2 separate regions of the Homo sapiens genome follow, and region 2 is linked to region 1. Evidence: fine-mapped expression QTL. Tissue or cell type: monocytes. Region 1 holds a variant in brackets; the other region holds the start of a gene. All regions are shown on one strand. Distances are between the middles of the regions.

Region 1 (2,686 bases):
AAAAAAGAAAGAAAGAAAAGAAAACCAGCATACATGCCTAATAATTGCATGTTTGCTATAAATTCCATACACTCTACTGTGACATTTTAATATTAGTAAAGCCTAATTTTCTTAATATTTTAGATTAAAAAATAAATAGAAGCAAGTATTCACATATGTTTTTCTCATACCTCTATGTACCATTTTGAGCACTTCACTTTGGAGTCCAGTTTCAACAGGAGAATCAGATGCACACCCAAAATACTAGAAAGCTTGGGAGTGTGAAGAGGGCTCTAATGTCAGGGTAAGCAAAATATTCTTAGGGCATCAAGGAAGCATTGCCAGAGGAAAGGAAAGCTGAGGATATTCAAGGACTTCTGACCTACTCCGTGGGCACAGCGTCTCTGGGCTTGGACAAGGGATTAGTGCCAGGCTTGATTTCCTTGGCTGGAATCTGTACATGAAGGCTGCACATGAAGAGCCTACCTCACCCCAGAAGCATCCATTTCCTGGCACCTCAAGCATATATGGGCTTAATAAATAACATGTCATTCCATGATGATAGGGACAGACATATTTGGCCCATAGCTTAGAGCCATCCCCAATTGTCTACACTCAATGGTGGGGCAGCAAGTACTGTGGATATGGAGCTGGGAGGCTGAGCTAAATCCTAGCTATCTTACTAACCAATTGTATGACTCTAGCCCTTAAACTCTCTGAGCTTTAATTTTCTCATCTGTAAAATGGGAATGATAAATGCCTTCCAGACCTATTTACAATTTCTAACATTTGTTGAGTTTTTCAATGTGCATTACATGTATCATCTCATGAAATCCTCATGACAAAATAATGAGGTGGAGCTATTATTGTTCCCCTTTTGCAAATGTGGAAACTAAGTTTTAGAGTAGGTAATCTGCCTACAAGTTTACACAGCTAGAATGTGCAGAGATGGGATTCTGAGGCTTGCTCAACTCTGAAGCAAATGTCCTACCCACTCTACTTGGCTGCTGACCATGAACACACTTCATGAACTCTGAAGTACGAACAAGGTACACAGAGTGTAAGATTTAGTCCTTGTCCTTAAGTCTAAATTCAAAATATGTTTATCTATAAAGCGTGTTTTTCTGTTTTTGTTTTTTTGAGATTGAGTCTCGCTCTGTCAGCCAGGCTGGAGTGCAGTGGCATGATCTCAGCTCACTGCAACATCCGCCTGCCGGGTTCAAGCAATTCTCTGCCTCAGCCTCCTGAGTAGCTGGGATTACAGGCGCCCGCCACCACACCCAGCTAATTTTTTTTTTGTTTTTATTTTTAGTAGAGATGGGGTTTCACCATATTGGCAAGGCTGGTCTTGAACTCCTGACATCATCATCCACTTACCTCAACCTCCCAAAGTGCTGGGATTACAGGTGTGA[G/A]CCACCATGCCCAGCCTATCTATAAAGTGTAAAAGTCCGACAAAGTAGGATTTGGTTAGAATGAAAAGGTGGAGAAAGAACTTCAATGTTAGTTTCCTTATCTTTAGTCCCTTACAACGGTATATGATTACTGGAAAGAGCACTTGGTTAGCAAGAAGAAAACCAGTTCTGTCCCATACTTGCTCTCAACTTTAGGCACTTCATTTAAGCTGTTTACTCATCTATTAGGGGTCCTAATGAATGAGCTCTAGAGGGTCTTTTTGCCTGACAATCCTCAAACTCCATTCTCAAAACTTCCTGCAATCGGGAGTCTCCCTCCCCTCCATGGAGAGGGCGGGACAGAGGCATGTAGACAGGGAGGCGATCCTCAGGTCAGCTAGGGCTTACTCAAACAAGGTCCTGTGGGGGCAACAGGGAGAGTGGATGGGGACTCAAGCCAGAGCCCTGGTGGGATGGGCCGGTAATTATAAGGAAACACTGCAGAGAAAGTTTCTGTTGTGGTTGTTCCCTTTGTTTACTTTAGGCAGTTCTGTCATTTTTTAACTGACCCTTCCCAGATGAGATAGTCAGTTTTCAGCTGGGTAAAGTCAGGGCCTTGCAACTGATGGGGTATTTGAATCCTCTGTGGCTCAGTTGCTGGAGGGAGGCCAGGGCAGCTGAAACTCCCCCGCCCTTTCAGGGAAGTGAAGCTGGGGCTACAAACTTGCTGACAGTGGCTGGTGGCCTGTAAACCCAAACATCCTCCTCTCCTCCGTCTCGGTGTAGCAATGTGAAAAAAACAAAGCCACGAGCTTTCCAGAGCAGGGGAAGGCTCTAGCCAGATTCCCTTCCAGCTACTCCCTCCTGCACTTCGGCCCACAGCCACATGGTACAAGGTTATAGTTACAGTTGAAAACTGCTGACGTCTACTTTTTGGTTGTTGTACAAATAATAATTAATAAAACACACACAAAAAAACACACTTTTCTTCATGGCTAAATATTCACATAGTTGATTCAAACCTAAATATGCATACTTGCTTTTCTTTTCCTGTTTTCTTAAGTTTGAATAATAGTCATGTAGCTGTTTAAGAATCAGACAGAAGGAAAACTCATCCGCTTAGTACTTTTCTTAAATTGTCCAGTTTCTTTTGGCCTCTGAATACCAGAGTCTTTTATGTGTAAGATTAGAAACATCTGGCCAGCATATCTGAGTAAGGCTGAGCTAAAGCGGGATGAAACTAGGTAGAATGGCCTGCCTTTCTGAATTATAGAATTTTAAGCATTGATGGGACTCAAACTTACTAAATTCTACCT
Region 2 (2,686 bases), 62 kb before region 1:
TTATTTCCACTAAAGGGTCTGAAGAAATGTAGAATCTAAAAGTGTGGGTGGGATGGGGAAGATATGATTTGATTCCCTTTCCTTGGTCCAACCGTGTTAGAAACATCCAACCATAAAGAAGCTTTCTAAGGAAGCCCTTTGAATTAACGTATCCACTTTTTCTCACCCGCCCGTGCCCCACCCCCAGCCATGCCAAAGGAGCAGCAAATGCTGCTGCCAGGTTGGAGGAATTGGTGATCGTCACACCACATTCCTGGGTCTGGACACAGCCTGAAACAGCAGCAGAGCTCCGCGCCTCGGAAAGAATAACAGCAGTTGAGATTTTTAAATCATGTGCCTCAGCATGCAGCCACACCAGTTGCCCTACTTCTCCTGCCTCCACCTTTCAAAGACGCGAGCAGCACACACGGCTCCCCCGGACTTTCGGTGGGGTTGGAGTGTCAAAACTCAGGCGCGCCGCAAAACCCCGTCCCCATCCAAACCAAGCCCACACACCCGGCCCATGTGCCGCCCCCTGGCAAAGGCGAGGCTGGCTGCGACGGTGCAGGCCGTTTGGCTTGGCGGCCCTGCCCCCGCTCTCCACGCCAGAATCTGGCATTCCTTCGCTCAGCCCCTCCGAGGCCCGCCGTCGGCTCTCGCTCGACCCCAAGAAACGCGGAACCTGAAGGGCAAAACTGCCCACCTCCCTGCACCCTGGCACTACGAAAAAGGAGTTTCTGAGACTTGCTGCCGGCCTCCCTCCTGCCGAGGAGGCGTGTAAGGGGTCCCGGGCCGCGGGGAGCAGAGGCGGCGGGGAACCCCGGCGGTTGGCGGGGCACCACGGGAGGGGCCCCCGGCGATGTCCAAACTCTTGGGAACCCAGCGAGTGGCCTCGCTCCGCGCCGGCGGCCGAGCCTGGCCTTCCCACACAGAGAAGGACCGAGGGGGAGAAGGGTCGCCCCAGGTGGCAGCCCCGGGCGCCGCGGACAGCGCCCCTCAGCCCGATACTCACCATGCGCGGGGGCCGCGCAGCACAGCCAGAGCGCCAGCAGCGCCCACAGCAGAGCGGGGCGCAGGGCGGGCATCTTCTCGGTCGCCTCCTCCTCCGCCGCCGCCGCCGCCGCCTGGGCAGATCCACATGGGGAGGGGGTCCCGATAGAGGAGCCCCACTCTCTCCTCCCCTCCTCCTGCTTCAAAGGCTCAGGCCCTGGCGCTACGCTCCGAAGCCCAGGCGCAAATGCCTCGACTCCCCGCGCCCCGAGTCCGCCGCTCCTCGGCCGCCGCCTCAGCCGCCGCCCGAAGTTTGGCTGAAACTTTCTCGGGTGTGCAACGAAGCAGCCTCGTGTGTCCTTCCGCCTCAGCCGCCTCCTCCCACCGCAAGCCCCGCCCCACTGTCGCCGCGGCCTCGGCCCCGCCGCCTTGGGCACCCAGGGGTTTCCCGCAGGAAGAAGCGCCGGCCCGAGCTCCGCGCGGAGGGATCTACTACGAGTCACTGGCCCCGTCCGCATCCTTCTCCAGCGGCCCCGGGGGCCGCCGCGCCTTAACTCGATCAGGGCTGCAGCGGCTCGCTGGCTTGACCAGTGCAGAAGGGGCGTGGGGGTGAGGGGGGTGGGGTAGGACTCTGAACTTCAAGCACTGGAGTTTGCCGGGATCGTGAACTTGCAGGGAGAGGCGGTCCTCATCCAGTGAGGTCTGTATCGCCACCTACACCCACACATCCACACACTGCTTTGCTAGCTAGAGGAATGCTCTGGAGTAGGACCAGTGCTGTCAAAGAAGGAAAGTGGGCCAAGGCGCCAAAGTCCATTAAAAAGGAATAGAGCCATCACGGAGTGGTGCTGCCCCATTCATTCATTCATTTGTTCATCCGTGTAGCGAATATTTCTTAAGTGCCTTACTTTGCGTAGCTGTGTGCTTGGCAGTGGGATGATACCAAAGATGCACAAGCAACTTTGAGTACCAAGACTTTGCCGCTGTGGGCTGGGGGATTCAGGGAAGGCTTTCCCAGAGGAGCTGGGATGAAAGCAGGATCTTGAAAGGTCAGTAAAATTTGTATAAGACAAGGAGACCAGCTAAGCTAAGGATATTCGTTGTAACACTGTAATAGCAAAACCTTGAAAACAACATAAATGCCCACCCTTAGAGGAATGGATGAATAATGTATGGTATATTTATAAAATGAAATGCAACACAGTAATTGAAAAGACTATAGCTATTTATGTCAATAGGGATAAATCTTAAAAACTAAATGATAGTGAAAAAACTAATCACAGAGGGAGACAAAGTATACCATTTATGTATATTTTTTTCAAGACAATACTACACATTATCTGTGGATGCATATATATAGATATAGATATTAAGAGACTATAACCAGAATAGTAGTTACTTCCAGGGCAGGAGAGTAGGGGGTGTGATCAAACCTGGGTACAAGTGGGCTTCTAAGAAAAGAGCTAAAAGTAAGAACAGCAACAATAGTTGTATGGACATATCATTCCAGGAAAGAGCCCTCGTGAAAGCAAAGGTACAGTCAAAAGAGTAAGTAAATGAGTTCTGTCTCTGTTAGCAGTGAGAGGAGTCAAGGACGGAAAGGGGGTTGGGACCAAATTATGCAGCCTTGAATGGCAAGCTGAAAGGGTGGGGAGGCAGCTACCTCTTAGGTCACATAAAACTATTGAAAGTTTTTGAACAGAGTTGAGATTGATGG

The links. PIP is the estimated chance that this variant, and not a neighbour inherited with it, causes the effect.
Region 2: NOTCH2 starts here. The variant in region 1 is fine-mapped to the expression of NOTCH2 in monocytes (TOPMed, PIP 0.92).

What each region holds. Positions count from the first base shown.
Region 1 is chr1:120,130,013-120,132,698 of GRCh38, forward strand. No RefSeq gene overlaps it. Among named protein-coding and RNA genes, the nearest start is that of SEC22B, 45 kb to the right of the region's middle. The variant G/A (reference allele first, on the strand shown) is at 1,392.
Region 2 is chr1:120,068,343-120,071,028 of GRCh38, forward strand. NOTCH2 (notch receptor 2) reads right to left here and starts at 1,320. Exons shown (of 34, transcript NM_024408.4): 1 at 992-1,320. The coding sequence starts at 1,064. It overlaps LOC101929178 (a long non-coding RNA gene), which reads left to right and starts at 1,486. Exons shown (of 2, transcript XR_254374.4): 1 at 1,486-1,669.